4 linked regions of the Homo sapiens genome follow. The protein of the gene in region 4 purifies or fractionates together with the protein of the main gene of each other region. This does not show direct contact. Each region holds a gene or a part of one and is shown on either strand. Other genes may lie near its edges.

What was found. Proteins that work in one complex are often made in the same cells at the same time.
Region 1: the proteins of FCF1 (region 4) and SERPINB2 purify together in Homo sapiens (affinity purification with mass spectrometry; 2 studies listed by BioGRID and IntAct, with this or other methods). This does not show direct contact.
Region 2: the proteins of FCF1 (region 4) and LGALS7B purify together in Homo sapiens (affinity purification with mass spectrometry, with the first as the bait; 2 studies listed by BioGRID). This does not show direct contact.
Region 3: the proteins of FCF1 (region 4) and TRIM29 purify together in Homo sapiens (affinity purification with mass spectrometry; 2 studies listed by BioGRID and IntAct, with this or other methods). This does not show direct contact.

What each region holds. Positions count from the first base shown.
Region 1 is NC_000018.10:63,897,705-63,901,046, reverse strand, and holds part of SERPINB2 (plasminogen activator inhibitor 2), read right to left. Parts: intron 3,321-3,342; coding exon 3,203-3,320; intron 1-3,202. UniProt on the Homo sapiens protein: Inhibits urokinase-type plasminogen activator. The monocyte derived PAI-2 is distinct from the endothelial cell-derived PAI-1.
Region 2 is NC_000019.10:38,787,887-38,791,999, forward strand, and holds LGALS7B (galectin-7), read left to right. Parts: upstream 1-1,313; 5' UTR 1,314-1,340; coding exon 1,341-1,346; intron 1,347-1,729; coding exon 1,730-1,818; intron 1,819-2,802; coding exon 2,803-3,004; intron 3,005-3,693; coding exon 3,694-3,807; 3' UTR 3,808-3,868; downstream 3,869-4,113. UniProt on the Homo sapiens protein: Could be involved in cell-cell and/or cell-matrix interactions necessary for normal growth control. Pro-apoptotic protein that functions intracellularly upstream of JNK activation and cytochrome c release.
Region 3 is NC_000011.10:120,131,614-120,135,113, forward strand, and holds part of TRIM29 (tripartite motif-containing protein 29), read right to left. Parts: intron 1-3,500.
Region 4 is NC_000014.9:74,729,242-74,734,660, reverse strand, and holds part of FCF1 (rRNA-processing protein FCF1 homolog), read right to left. Parts: intron 1,931-5,419; coding exon 1,843-1,930; intron 586-1,842; coding exon 491-585; intron 1-490. UniProt on the Homo sapiens protein: Part of the small subunit (SSU) processome, first precursor of the small eukaryotic ribosomal subunit.

The DNA.
Region 1 (3,342 bases), on a different chromosome or scaffold from region 4:
TAAGAAGCAGTTTGTTTATAGTTAGTACTCGCTCTGCAGTATTCCAAGCATCAAAATATATTATTTTGATACTCTATTAGGTGGGTTTTATTAGTGTCATTTTATGCAAAAGGACACCACCAGGTTAGCAGTCTTCCCAACGTTACAATGCTGGTAAGCTTGTAAAAATTCTGCCTCCACAGTCAAAACTACTGACAAATACAAGACTCTTAACAAATTAATAGGTCAATGTGGTTTTGAAGTAGGAGGTGGGACCTGACTCTGGAGGCAGGTTTTAGACACCAGGCCAAATTGAGGGCTAGCTAAAATGGGGACCAGGGACAGGATGGAAGCAGTGTACCATGTCAGTTTACCATTGTGATGGCAACACCTTGGAGTTACCACCTCTTTCTGTGGCAATGACCTGATGACCCAAAAGTTATTCCCCGTTCCCTAGAAATTTCTGCGTAAACTGCCCCTTAATCTACATGTAATTAAAAGTAGGTATAAATATGACCCCCAAACTGCCCTGAGCTGTGCCTCTCAGCACAGTGCCTGGGGTAGCCCTTCTCTGCAGGAGGAATCATGGAGCTGTAATACTGCCACTTCAATAAAGCTGTTTTCTTCTACCCTACCTCCAGCTCACCCTTGAATACTTTCCTGGGTGAAGCCAAGAACCCTTGAAGGCTAAGCCCCACTTTGGAGCTTGCCTGCCTTGCATCAGTTTCATCTTCAATGTATTCATTTAATATATACATTCAATATATTTCCCAAGCTATTAAAATTTTTGGTTAGTATTGGGGTATAGTAATGTTGTGATGTATATGATAAAACTAGTATTTGATCATAGCATGATGAAACAGACAATTCTCTCCAATTCTTACAAAAGCTGGTAAAACAATCTGCCAAAATAGCTGCTTGGCATTTTGGCAAAATAACTGATTGACTTACAGCCATTTAGCACAATGTCTAAAGAGAAAAACAATTCATGCCATTCTTTAAAGAAGGCAAAACTTCCATGTGTCTCTTTAATTTTGCTCTCCATTTTTACTTGAACTTTTGATTTAAATCATCTTTCTCTGCTTCCTTTGTGTCAGTGGTCTGTCAATATTTTAGAACAGTATTTCACAAATCCACAATGAAAATGAAGAACTAAAAGGAAATCAATTATTTTCAGATAAACAAATAAATATATATTTTTTGAAATCCCATAGCACTTAGTTTATGTGCATTTTCCATTGTGGTAATTAATAAAGCAAGACACCAAACTATTTCTTGAAACAATGTCTTAAACATAAGAGTTAAATGAAAATCCTTAAAAAAATAAGTTATAAAATTTTTAAACATCCGATTGAGGAATTCTGGAGTTAGACTAAGGATCAGAAGAAGAAGCAACCCTGGCTTTACCGCTACCAGTGGGATCTTAGGGGAGCCGGCTAATCCCCTGGGAACAGGATGCTCCAACCACAAATTGGTAAGATGGATAGGAGCTCTCTTAGGACATTTTCAATCCTAACAGATCATAAATGAATGAAATACTTACACAATTCTGAATTCATAATCATCTCTGTTTCTTAGAAATACATTTATATGTTATTATTCAGCAATTGTTTACTTAAGGCCTACAACTCTACCTGGAAATTCAGAAGAATGAAGGATTTTCACTGTCAGCAAAAAACTGTGCAAATTTTTGTGGGGGCATAGGATAAGTGTGACATACTGGACCTACCCAAAAATAATTAGAGCCTGAGAGGAAAAGCAAAACAAACTAACAAAAATCAGTTCCATAATTGTTTAAGGCCATATATGGCTAACACTAATGTGACTTGTGAAGCTGAAAAAGCAGATGAGGAGATGAGAAGAAGAAAAGATCAGGAAGTAATTGGGAGTCACTTCCAGGAAAGAGTAAGACTTTGGCTGCAATTTAAACTGCAACTTAAATCCTGTAGTTGAGGCATCCTCAGAAACAAAGTCTAGAGGCAGCAATGAGTGTTTAAGGAGCTCCAAGGGCCAGTGGTAGCCAAGCACAGTCAACTGGATTACTGAGAACTCAGAAGTCAAGGTAAAGAATGAGACCTTCTCCTGAGGACAGTAGGAGGTCACTGACAGTTTTTAGTGTGGGAATAGCATAATAAGTGTACTGCATCACCTCTTTAATTTCACCTCCTTCCCTTGGCCCTCCACACTGCAGTCAGACCAGACTCTATTCTTCTCCTTAGGGTTACCTCTGGACCTTTGCATATTCTGTGCACTCTGTCTGGAAATCTCCCCCCAGGCATGCACCCTCCACCTGGCCAGCTCCAGCCTGTCTTCCCAATTACAATTTAATCATTTTTAAATCCAGTCAGATGCCTTTCCTGTGTACTCCCACATAGCACCTGTACTTCTCAATGAAAGCACTGACTACTACTCTATAGCAATTGCCAACATGACTGAATCCCTCCTCTATAGGCTCTATGGTGGCAGGATTTACCATTTTTATCTTTATCTCCACATATAGTTTCTGGAATATGGTGTGTGGTGGATAAATATTTGTTGACTAAGTGAATGAACTTAATAGAACTTAATGAATGAATGAATTCAATGAATAAATGACTTAATAAACTAAATTACAATGAATAAATGATTCAATTAAATAATTTATTCATTGTAAAATATACAGAGGGAGGCAGGAGCCTGTGAAACAATTAAAAGCATGAGTTAAAATGGTAGACGTGACTTAGATAATCAAGGAGGGATGAAGCAGAGACCAAAAAAACTTGACAATGGATTGGCTTTGAATGGTGAAAGAGAAGAAAGAGTGAAAATAATTTTATGATTCTTCCCTCCTCCACTGCCTGTATTCTTTATAGCTCACACCATTTACTAAGCTCAGGGTCAAGCCTTGTTTTCTTTTTGTCCACAGTGGGCATAGACTCACAATTATTTCAATGCTGATATTTCCTATTTTGAAAGCTTCTGCCTCCTTTCATATTCTATCCTCAAGCAATATCCAAAATCAAATATTTAAGTACTAAACATATGTCTTCTATTAGTAGGCCTCAATTATTTCTTCTCAGTTAAAACACCACTGAGCTAATCAGGAATAAATTCACATCCACCAAAGTAACTGCAGTTGGACAAATTGTAAAGGGGTGAGGGCTAACTAAGTTCATGGATGGAAAAAGATAGATCAGAGTTTTCTAACTGGAAAGAAGTAAATAAAATATTTTCTTGGATTTACCTTTGGTTTGAGTCTTGACCCAGGAATTAATCTTTTTTCTAGCTTCTTCTGCACATTCTAGGAAGTCTACTGCCTGGGGTTCTGAGGAGTAATATTTCTGACAGAGTCGAATATATTCCTTTAAAGCAAGAAAATGACAA
Region 2 (4,113 bases), on a different chromosome or scaffold from region 4:
GCCAATTTTTTGTATTTTCTATAGAGAAGGGGTTTCACCATGTTGGCCAGGCTGGTCTTGAACTCCTGACCTCAAGTGATCCACCTACCTTGGCCTCCCAAAGTGCTGGGATTACAGGCGTGAGCTACCATGCCCAGCCAGGAGTGGTTTCTGTTCAGCTCCCACACCATCCCTGCCTTTCAGAAACAGATTTCAGTCCTGCCCGCCCCCCCCCCCCCCCCCGCCTCCCCCAGTCTACTTCCCCAACCCTGGATTCTCTTCTAGAGTCTTGGGCCCAAGCGGGCTATATTGGGGCTGGCGGGAGGGTCCCCACCTTGCTCTGCTTTTGATCTAGGTGGTGATGGAATGCTAGGCCACCCACCACCCTAAAACCCACCTCATCCTGACCTGCAAAATTGGTGGGAAGATGGTAACAGTCCTGGAAGGAGGAACAAGAGAGACTTGAAGGAGAGAAGTGGGACAGGAATACGCGGTAGACAGTTATAGACAGAGACAAACAGAGCCAGACAGCCAGCCCCAGAGACAGAACCCACAGGAGAGGCACGCCCAGAGGTGAGGAAAGGCAGAGGTTGGGGCAATGGGTCCTGCCCGGCTTGTGGAAAATCACTTCCCATCCCAGCCTCAGCCTCCTTCTCTGTACAATGGGGGTGACCCATGCTTCTCTCTGTTGGAATGGTGGGGTCCCAATCAGTGATTTCCTGCATATCCTGGGCAGCCCAAGGGCCTGGGAAATGACAAGCGTAGTCCTAGTGGATCCCCTCCTTTCACCCCTCCTGACTGAGGACTTCCCATGAACCCGGCACACTCCAGGACCCAGGGGTGCAGCACTGAGCCAACCAGGCCGCCCTCCGACCCTGTGAAGTCCCCCTGTCTGGCACTATCGTCGTTGTTGTGGCTGCTGTTCCACTGGAGACTTAGAAGCAGGGATTTCAGCGCAGACATTTCCAGTCTAGGCAGGAGGTTCTCAGCTGGAGAGAAGGGTCTAGAGTTCCCGCTGGGCTTGGCTTCTCAGGACCCAACATGTCTGTGGATAAAATGAGCATGAGAGACTCTCCTGTGTGCCAGGCAGTGGGAAGACAGGGGTGGAGGGGCGGTGGCTCTTATTATCAGCTCCTAGGAGAGGGGCAGTGCACCCGGGCTCTGGGTGATGGGGGGATCAGGGCCCCCAAGAAGAGGCGCCACTCCCACTTCGCCAGGCTTGCCCCAGGGCCAGGGTCCGTGCCAGGTGTGGGTGGTGGGTGGGAAGGGGTGGGGTGAGTCATCAGGGCCAGCCCCGCCCTGCTTTTATTTAAGGTCCCCAGCAGGCCCCACCACCACGGCTGCCCAACCCGGTCCCAGCCATGTCCGTGAGTGCTCCAGGGGCCCGGGGCGGGGCCAAGCAGGGAGGGGGCTGGGGGCTCCTCTTTCAAAGGAGCAAGTGGGCAGTGAGTGTGCCACGGACTGGCCTGGGCTGTGGCCTCCGGGTAACCCCCATCCCGACTGTCCCCTCTACCTCTTTGTGGCTTCCTCTGGGGCCCTCTTTGAGGATCTTTCTGTTTGTCTTTGTTGCTCTCCCCATCTGTTTCCCTGTCTGTTTCTGGTCTCTTTCCTGCCTCTCCGCCACCCTTTCCTCTTCCACTGATTTCTGCCAGTCTCAGCCCTGGTCGGCTCCTCTGAGGGGTGACCCACCTTCTGCCTCCCTCCTTCGGTCTCACCGGCTCACAGTGGCCCCTGCACCCCACTCTTGCAGAACGTCCCCCACAAGTCCTCACTGCCCGAGGGCATCCGCCCTGGCACGGTGCTGAGAATTCGCGGCTTGGTTCCTCCCAATGCCAGCAGGTGAGGCCCCAGGCCCTAGGGGTAAAGGGTACAGGTCTCAGGATCAGCTGACTCCCAATTTTTGCAGTCCAGAAGTAGGGGCCCGAGGCCACCTGTATCCACCAGGCTAGGAGTCCGAGGCCATTTCTGACCTCAAATCTGATGTATTCGTATTTGCCCCCGTGCCTTTGTGGCTGGGGTCCCTAAGTTTCCCTAAGCATTTGAGGTCCCTGGGTAATCTCAGGGTTCCTAGATATAGTCCTATGACTTCCATGTCTGAGTCCCAGGGAACTCTGGAAATACTCCAAGTCCTGGAGACACCCTGGACCCTGGGAGTCCTTGCCAAGCCATCCTTTGACTTCCTGGCTAAGGAACTTCGGGCCTTCTGGATTCTGAGGTACCCTGGAAATACTGGGGTTCCTGGTATTATTCTTTGTCCTGTAGAAGCTGAGGGTTCCCTGAGCATCAGGAGCACCCTGGCTATCACCCAGACCTCCTGGGCAGCTCCCAGGCTCTTTGGAAATGAGGGCACCCTGCCCTAAGCGTAGTGAGTTTGGTCTGGGTAGGTTTCTGCCAAGGGCCTCATGATATTTTGGCTGCCTTGGGAATCTAAGCTCCCTGGTCATTAGTCGCCCACCTCTCCTTCTGCGGTGTGTGCCTGTCTTCAGGTCCCTGTTAATTTGGGGGTACTCTGGGAATGGGGAGTGCCAGCCCATAAGACCTTCACTTTGGTCTGGGCGGTTTATGTTTTGTTTGTTCTTTCGTTTTTTTGTAAGGTGGGGTCTCGCTATGTTGCCCAGGCTGGTCTTTAACTTCCGGGCCCAAGCGATCCTCCCTTCTCCACCTCCCAGAGTGCTGGGATTACAGGGTGAGCCACTGCACCCAGCCAACATTTCATTTACTTATTCATTCAAAGTAAATTGTAGACATCGGTATTCCTCACCCTCAACATTTCTTGGTCTGGGTGGTTTCTGAGCCCTGACGGCCACCATCCCCCTCTTCCAGGTTCCATGTAAACCTGCTGTGCGGGGAGGAGCAGGGCTCCGATGCCGCCCTGCATTTCAACCCCCGGCTGGACACGTCGGAGGTGGTCTTCAACAGCAAGGAGCAAGGCTCCTGGGGCCGCGAGGAGCGCGGGCCGGGCGTTCCTTTCCAGCGCGGGCAGCCCTTCGAGGTGCTCATCATCGCGTCAGACGACGGCTTCAAGGTGCGTCTCTGCGACAGGGGCGTGGACGCCAAGACTTAGGTCCCTGGAGCAGAGGGTTGGGCAAAGCCAGGCTATTGGTGGAAGGCAGGGAGGTTCGGGGCGGGGTGAGGGGGGTAGGGAAGTCGTGGCCAAGGCGGAGAAGGGTGTCCTTCGACCCTCTCTCTCGCCTAAACAACTCCCACTTGGGTCCGAGGGACAGAGAGACAGCAGGGTCAGGACGAGGCGAGCACCAGCCAAGTGTCCAAGGGGTGGGCGTCCTAGCGGGAAGGCGTGGCCCAGACTCGCCATCCCAGACCCTACTCCCAGTTCATTCCTTCCTGAGGTCCGGGGTTTGAGGCATGGGGAGGGATGGGTTGGAAACAGCGCCCAGGAACTCGTCCTAGCAAGGATTGGCGGGTGGGAGTGGCGGCAGATCCTCCACCACCCACAGCTTACGCGAATTCACCTCCCTCCTCTGCGCTTTAATAGCGGGTAATGGTCGCTGAAATGAGAATATCCATTACCAGCACTAAAAAAGCCGCTTTTTACTGTGCCACACAGTCAACTCGTTTGATCCTCACGCAAGAGTTAGAATGAACAATAGCCCCATTTTCCCAGTGAGGAAACTGAGGCCCAGAGGGGATGAGTGATTTCCCCAGGGCCACCCAGCACGGGCCTCCGGAATCCTCACCACCGACCCTCCCCTGCAGGCCGTGGTTGGGGACGCCCAGTACCACCACTTCCGCCACCGCCTGCCGCTGGCGCGCGTGCGCCTGGTGGAGGTGGGCGGGGACGTGCAGCTGGACTCCGTGAGGATCTTCTGAGCAGAAGCCCAGGCGGGCCCGGGGCCTTGGCTGGCAAATAAAGCGTTAGCCCGCAGCGCGACTGTGTCTGTGTCCCATTCACTGAGATGAGCAAACTGAGACCCAGAGAGGCCAAGATACTGGCTCCGGGCCACACAGCGAATCCGAGGCGGAGGCGGGCTCTGAGCCTGCCTGTGCTTAGGACACTTTCTGTCTGCGAAGGCGTGAGGGTCGCGATCTGGGAAGGAGTGGGTGTGGGGCGTGCCCTGACGCAGCATTTGTGCAAAGCAAGCCAGCTGGGAATGCGGTCGGGCGGACCTGCTGGCG
Region 3 (3,500 bases), on a different chromosome or scaffold from region 4:
GGCAGGACACAGCAGGCTCTTGGAGTTCCCATGGACTGGGAACTCTGTGCTGCTAGAATGGTCCTTTCTCACCTCTGGGATGAGTCCTACCCTGTCGGGGGAGGAGCATTTGGGGTGACAGCTAGGGATGCACCTTGTGTCTGTTCAGCTCTTGGCAATTTTTCCTGTATAGGAAGTAATATAACATGGGAAGGTTTAAAAGTCGCTGGGCTCTCCTTCAACACTAGGAGAGGGAAGGAAGGCAGTGTTGATTACTGAGCATCTAGTATGTGCCAGGACTTTTCTCCTTTAACCAGCAAAAGCCTCCTGTGGAGGTAAGTGGCATTATCCCTCCGACTTCACAGGTGTGAAAACCGAGGCCTATAAAGATTACACAGCTTGCCTGAGTTCTCACAGTTGGAAAGCGGTAAGGCCAAGCTTCAACAACAGGACTCAGATCCTATTCTGTGCTTCAAGAGGCGCACCTAGAGGTGGTGGCACTAGGCTGTCCTGTGTGTCTTCTGTGGCATCGTCCTTCCCCTTCACTCCTGCTGGCCTAAGCCCTCCCATGCTCCCTTCACCTTGCAGATGGCACTTTGGCAGTTCCATCTCTTTCCTTTTGCCCCCGCTTCCCTCCCAGCACCCTCCCCATTGTCCTCTGAGGCCCCAGCTTTCTCTCTCCCTCTCTCCCTCTTCCCTCAGAAAGTGGTTGAAGGCCCTGATGGCTGACAGGGCCTCTGATCCCCACAGTCCCGCCCTGCCCACACCTCCCTCCTGACTTCCTACTCTCCGCTTCATTCCTCCCTGCCCAGGCCTGTCCCTAAATGACTCCTTTGTTCCCTTCTCCCACACCTGTCTGTTTGCCTCTTGCTCTCTGATGCCAGGAACGGGCCCTGCATGGGCCACCTAACCTTGAAATCCTTCAGCCTTGGGTGAGCAGAGGTTTTCCCGAGAGCAGATGGGTGGTGCAGCAGCTAGCAGTGCCTCAACCTGGACGTGGTCTTCAGGTGGAGACACACCTGAGCACCCACCCGGATAGGTGTACCTGCACTGGCTCCAGGGAGGAGAGGACTGGCCATGATCTTCCCCTGGCCTGAATTCACTACATGGGCCATCGGCTGTGACATTTGCCAAATGAGCCAGTTAATTGCCAAATTTGTACTCTCAGACAAATGGTAATTATCTGGATAAGAATCTGAAATGCTGGATAGATTTCCCCATTTCCACTCGGACGTAAAACAGCCCAGGATCAGTTAGTCTGTTTGACTGAGATTTACTGTTCCTTTTGCCTCCTCACAGCCTCAGGTCAGGGGAGGGGTGAGATGGGGCAAGGAAGGTATCACCCTGGCCATCTCCAGCCAAGAGTGGGGAAGAAGACAGAATGCCAGGCCCACAGAGAGTTAGCACCCCCCTCAGTCTCCTCCTTCACCTTGCAGATGGGGACGCAGGCACAGTGGGAACCTCCCCTTCCTGGGCCTTGGTTTCCTTGTGGTGAAATTGGACTAGATCTCTGATTCCCAACCCAGCTACACATTAGAATTCTCTAGGGAGACCTTTAAAATACCTCCTGGGCTAAGGCCTGGGAATCTGTGTTTCAACAATTCACCAGCTGATTCTGGTCTGGGGATTGCTGTTTGGGAGCCACTGGACTCGGTGATCTCAAGAAGACCCTTCCAATCCTACAGGAACAAAAAGGCTTAAAATAGCGGAGAGGAATCCCAGCTCTGCCACTCTTGAGTGCTGTAACTTGTGTAAGTCTCTTGACGACTTTGACCTTGTTTCTTCATCTACAAGTAGGACATGCTGGGCCCGGCACTGGCACTCAGGTGTGTGCCACAGACACTGGGTTGCCTCCTGCCTGCCTGTCACTTTGCTCCCCTGCTTCCTGTCTCCAAGCTTCTTTTATTTTGTTATTTCCCCCTTAGCACCCAGAGAGGCCCCCCTACCTCCTTTCTCACCCACCCTGTCCCAGGGCAAGCATTCTCCCCCAAAGTCACCAAGGTCTCCAGGGAAAGTGGGCCCAGCCCCTCCAGGGCACCCTGGCCTTTAGCCTGGCTCCCCTTCCCGAATCCCAAAGAGCTTTCCTGGGCAGACCAGCGCTGCTCAGAAAAGCAAGGACCAGCGGCTGCCCATGCCCAGCAGCCAGTGGCTCAGCTTTTGTGTTAGAATTGGGAATGAGACGAGAAACAAAGCCACAGATGTGGTGAGAGAACTGAACTGAACCAAATGGTGGGGTTGAGAGAGTGGAGGAGGTGTGAGGCTAAGCCTCTCCAAAGCAATGCTCCTAGCTGAGTGACCTCCACACACGCCTCGTCATGCTGCCACCCCAGAGCAGGCCAGATCCATGACAGTGCAGGGCCCCCCAAGAGCAGCCAGCCGTCCACCCAGGAGGTCTTAACATCCTGGCCTGCTGAAGCTTGAGATAGGCAGAAGGAAGGGCCATAAGACACAGAAAGGGATGTATGTGTACATTTCAATCTCACCCACCTAACCTAGCCTGGGAAGTGTTCAGTGGCAGAGGGGAAGACAGGAGGACATGTATGAGGCCTATTGTGACATTTGGGGTGGCACTGGAAACATGCTGACCCAGGGACCACCAGAGGAAGGTGCTGTCATGTTGCCGCACCAAGCGATCTTTTTCTAACAGAGACTCTGCTCAGAGTCTGTAGGTAGAGCTGAGGCCCAGAAGACAGGCACCCACAGCCCTGGGTGTCATCGTAGCCTCACACCACCAACCGAGGCAGGTCTGAGGCTGTATCACCTGGGCCTTCACCACTGGCCTGCGGAACGGGTTCTGAACAAAGCCACTTGCAAACAGCTATGCGTGGGCTGATGTTTGGGTCTGCAGGAGATGCCTCAAAAGGATGCCAGGACTGGCATGCTCATTCACTTTGGCCCATCTACCCACTAACCCTGCTCTGTGCCAATGTCCCCCACCTGTGACATTCCAGCAGAGCCAGGCCGAGACAGCCCGTGTGCCCAGCTCAGTCTCCTGGCTTCCTGGCTCCACTTCTCCCCGCCTAGCCCTATGCTGCAGGTGCACATGTGTGTGCACACACACGGAGGCTACCTGAAGCTCCCACCATCACAGTCACTTTAGAGGACCAGGCATTTTCTCCTAAAACACACATATCCCAATCCCATCCCCTTGGGGCCCTTTCCCTGAGGCACTCTCAAACACTGGAAGAGGGCTTAGGGGGCTTCCTCCTCAAACAAGGACCTTGGACAGGCCCCTTCCTTCCTCTGTGCCTGTGTCCCTATCTGCAAGGTGAGGGAGGACACTGAGGGGGTGGCTAATACTCTGTTGGCCCGGCATTCTGTCTACTACGGTTTGACGTTAACTTCTAGCCGCTCTGTGTAACTAGACGGGCGCTCCCCAGTCCTGTTTGTGTGTATGAGCCCTGCCTCCTGACCCACATCATGAGCCCTCCCTCAAGGAAGAACTGTGAGTCCCTCAGCGGCCCCCATGCCAGAACCCGAACTCTGAACTCTGAGCTCCTGGCACATCCACATAGGGCTGC
Region 4 (5,419 bases):
GAGGAGCTGAGATCAGTAAGTCCAACTTCTTAGTCCACAGACTTCCCACCACATTGTGCTCTCCTCAAGCTGAAAAGCTGGAAAATAAGTCTGAGTACTGACAAAAAATAGCCAAGAAGGATAACAGCTTTTTTTTTTTTTAAATAAGCTTTCCATTTCTCAGATGAAGTGTTAATAAAAAAAAATCTTTCAAAACAGGTATTTCTGGCCAAAAAGATTAGCTTGATTTAAATTACTGCTTTTATTTAAAACAATACGTCTATTTCTTCCAGTAATCTTACTCTAACAATTTAAATGTTTGCCTCATTCCTTAAATCCTATCTCTCTCTTTTGCTCTTGCTCTTGCTTTGTCTCATTTCTTCAAATATAACTATGTAAACATTTGATACAATAATTTCTTTCAAATCCTTTATAACCTTATCACTTATCCTCATTTTCAATTGATATCAATTATATATTTCTATTCCCTTCTCCAAGGGAAATTTCTCACCTATGGTTAGAAATGTACATGATAGGAACTCCAGGAATCTTACGGATTCTTCTTTTCAGGTCCCGGTCAACTGTGGCCACAATGTAACACTTATGCTGTAAGAGACATGGAGTGATGTTCACACTGAGGTCACTGAGCACGCTTAGTGAATACTGGATAATGGCACAACGACTGACCAGTCTGAGAATCGTTCATTTTCACAGTAAGTAGCGAAGGGCAGGCTATAACAATTTGTTGAGTACCTACTATGATCTAGGAGCTCCTAATCTTGTTATATAAAATAAACAAGTTGCCTGGGCTGAATGCAGCATTTAGAATCTTGAGGAGGAGAAGGTAGAAAACTTTTCACAAGCTGCAAACTGTTTTCTGCTCATAAATGAAAGGGACTTTCACACTTGGGGCAGACAATTCTTTAGTTTTGGGAAAATGCTCCGAGGAACTCCATGGAGATAAAAAGTGCCTTAATTTGGAGGCCATAGCTCCCTCCTTTCCCTAGATCTTGGGGCTTGGGTGTGCTCTGGGCCTACTGATGTTAGAGGTAAGCTATCCCCGAAACAGGAAGCCTAAGTAGGATATTCAGGGCCTGAAACTAGAGCCTAGCAGTTATAAAAGCAGTAATATTTAGCTGTCAGGTGAAAGCTATTTTATAGGAAGCTTCACATCTGTCACGTCTGACTCTCCTACTGAGTTTTATAAAAAGTGGCAGAGTGGTGTCAGCTGTGCTGTGGGAAATACTGGCCCCACCCACCCGCCCCATGGGGTGAAGTGGCTAAAAGGATGGCTCTGTGGTCAGCAGAGCAGATGAAGATTATCATCAGCAGAGAGGCCCTTATAAAAGCACTCAGTAGCAGAAGTCCTTGTGGTGCTTAATGAAGGAATTAAAAACCTACTTATTCTAGGGTATGTGTGAAACAGCATCTTGGGAGACTCTCAGATTTAACTAAGAAGCACTTTTGGATTAGGCATCGTGAAGAGGAACAAAATTCCTACATCAAAAATAAATGGGTTCTACATTAACTCACTTAAAATCATTTTACAGAGATTTGTGAGATAAAGAATCAGTTAAATGTCCCAAATCACACAGCCAGTAAATGCAGGTGCTGAGACGTGAAACCCATGTCTCCTCCCCAAGCCTGTGCTCTTTCCATTATGGTTAGAGTGTACATTTTCAATCCACTTTCTCAAGTAAATGAAGACACCTATGCTTCTTATGAAGGAATGCTATGCAATTTTTTTTTAATTTAACCATAATGTATATTCCTAGATGTTTTACTGACCATGAACATTCAGGAGATAATAGTTTACATTTTTTTTTTTTAAGCACAAAGTAAACAGTTATGAACTGATAATACCTGAGTTACTCTCTGTACTAAGCAGTCATCTGCATAGGTTCCTTTGTGTGTACATGGTAATCGTTCAAATCTTGGATCCTTGGCAATCCTGTAGGTGGATTAAAGAAAACATTCAATCAGCTGGATAACTTTCTGAGTCTTAATTAATGCAATAAAAGTAACATGATCTATGCAGAGATTTTAAGGCACTGTTCTCCTCCTGAACTTTATCCTCTAACTGGAAAGACAATTCACGGGGCAGGGAATGAAGGCTGACAGCTAGTGTGCTTTGGGTCATTTAATCATTACAAAACTTTGAGTTATTATATATCTATTCTACAGATGAGGAAGTAGGCTTAGAGAGATTAAATTACTTCATTCAAAGCTATACAGCTGGGAAAAGCCAGGATTCAAAAACAAAACCCATTTTAACCTAACCATTTCACTTTTAAGAAGTTGTCTTAAACACAATGAACAAGAATATAGGCAGAAGGATGATCACTCAACACAGTTTATAGTAAGTGAAGAAAATAAAAATATCCTTTAGAAAGGTAAAAGTTAAACCCATTTTGGTGCCCTTATCCTATTAATAAAAAGTGAGGTAGAGCTGTACGTACCAATGTGGAAGGACCTACACTAAACTGTTGAATAAACAAAGCAGGGCATATGCATATATATATATATAATATGATTTAATTAATAAAATACAAATCCTTCTTTCCAATACTCTTTATTTAGATTTGCATTTGCACAGAAAAAGGTCTGAAAAAATATATTAACCTTTGTCAGTTGTCACTCTTGGGGTATGAGAATGGACAAAGTATGAATGTAGAGGCAGACTTTTACCTTTTACTATATGTATATGCTTGTATTGTTTGCCATAAAACACTCAAACATGTATTATTTTCATACATATTTGAAAAAGAAAAACCCCAACTCTGTGTGATTCTGAGAGCCATGCTCTTTCTATTAACAGTGATGATGAGTCACTGAAATGAAGAAAAATACAAGACAGCACATATGTACCAAGTGCAACACAAATACTCCTCCATATTGCAGTAGTTCAGCGCTAGGTCAATGTGGGTTGGGAATATTTAGAAAAAAATGACATGGGGTGAAATAAGATTAAAGAATGTGCCAAGCAATGTGAGGGTACCAAATAGGACACCAGCCAACTGTAAAATGGTTTCTTGGTATTTGGGGAAGAGTAAACACATCTTTCTGGCTGGGGGCAGAGTGTTTGTGGAGAGAAGAATGAAATGGGGCTAGAAAGAGTCTCCAATGCCAGGCTGACGAGTGTGATGACACAGGTAATGAGGAGTCATTAAAGATTTCTGGGGGACAAAGTGATAAGAACAAAGCTCTGTCTTGGAAAAACTAAGCAGGCTGTGCTGGGGAGGATACACTAGAGGGAGGATGGACTGGTTGCTGACAAACTAGGTGGGCAACAGTCTAGGACTATGCTCTTTCAGTTATCTCTTTACTCCTGAAATCACTTGTCTCCTCTCTACTAGCTCTTTCCTAGAAACATACTAACATGCTGTCATATATTCTCTGCCTTAAGACAAAAAAATCTTTTTACCTATACCCCCCTCCAGCTAACACCCCATTTCTGCATCTCTTGACAGCCAAACTTAGTGTTTCCACTTGGTGCCTCTATTTTTTCCCCTCTCATTCTTTATTTTTATTGTTTTAAAAATTACCAGGCTGGGTGTGGAGGATCATGACTACAATCCCAGCACTTTAGGAGGCCAAAGCAGGAAGATCACTTGAGGCCAGGAGTTTGAGACCAGCTGGGCAACATAGTGAGACCCTATCTCTACTAAATTTTTTTTTTTTTTGGAGATGGGGTCTCATTCTGTCACCCAGACTGGAGTGCATTGGCACAATCCCAGCTCACTGCAACCTCTGCTCCCGGGTTCAAGCGATTCTCCTGCTTCAGCCTCCTGAGTAGCTGGGATTACAGGCATGCGCCACCATGCCCAGCTAATTTTGTATTTTTAGGAGAGACGGGGTTTCACCATGTTAGCCAGGCTGGTCTAGAACTCCCGACCTCAGATGATCTGCCTACCTCAGCCTCCCAAAGTGCTAGGATTACAGGCGTTAGCCACTGCACCCAGCCTTTTTGAGATGGAGTCTTGCTCTGTTGCCTAGGCTGGATGCAGTGGCATGATCTTGGCTCATTGCAGCCTCTGCCTCCCAGCCTCAAGCAATTCTCCTGCCTCAGCATCCCTAGTAGCTGGGATTATAGGTGCCTGCCACCACCCCCAGCTAATTTTTGTATTTTTAGCAGAGATGAGGTTTCACCACATTGGTCAGACTGGTCTTGAACTCCTAGCCTCAGGTGATCTGCCCGCCACAGCCTTCCTAAGTGCCAGGATTACAGACGTGAACCACCATGCCCAGTCTCTACCAAAAAAATTTTTTTTTAAAATTAGCCATGCAAAAGAAAAAAAATAATCAGACATGCATAGTGGTATGCACCTGTAGTCCCAGCTACTTGGGAGGCCAAAGCAGGAGGATCACTTGAGCCGGAGAGGTCAAGGCTGCAGTGAGCTGTGATAGCATCACTGCACTCCAGCCTGGGCGACAGAGTGAGAATCTGTCTTTAAAAAAAAAAAAAAAAAAAAAAAGCATATACACATATCTATAAACAATGCAGTATTGGTTTGCATGTTTTTAGACTTTAGATAAATGGTATACTCCACATATGTTCTTGCTTTTTCATAGACATCTACAGAACTCTCCACCCCAAATCAACAGAATATACATTTTTTTCAGCACCACACCACACCTATTCCAAAATTGACCACATACTTGGAAGTAAAGCTCTCCTCAGCAAATATAAAAGAACAGAAATTATAACAAACTGTCTCTCAGACCACAGTGCAATCAAACTAGAACTCAGGATTAAGAATCTCACTCAAAACCGCACAACTACATGGAAACTGAACAACCTGCTCCTGAATGACTACTGGGTACATAACGAAATGAAGGCAGAAATAAATATGTTCTTTGAAACCAACGAGAACAAAGACACAACATACCAGAATCTCTGGGACGCATTCAAAGCAGTGTGTAGAGGGAAATTTATAGCACTAAATGCCCACAAGAGAAAGCAGGAAAGATCGAAAATTGACACCCTAACATCACAATTAAAAGAACTAGAAAAACAAGAGCAAACGCATTCAAAAGCTAGCAGAAGTCAAGAAATAACTAAAATCAGAGCAGGACTGAAGGAAATAGAGACACAAAAAACCCTTCAAAAAATTAATGAATCCAGGAGCTGGTTTTTTGAAACGATCAACAAAACTGATAAACCGCTACCAAGACTAATAAAGAAAAAAAGACAGAAGAATCAAATAGACGCAATAAAAAATGATAAAGGGGATATCATCACCGATCCCACAGAAATACAAACTACCATCAGAGAATACTACAAACACCTCTACGCAAATAAACTAGAAAATCTAGAAGAAATGGATAAATTCCTCGACACATACACTCTCCCAAGACTAAACCAGGAAGAAGTTGAATCTCTGAATAGACCAATAACAGGAGCTGAAATTGTGGCAATAATCAATAGCTTACCAACCAA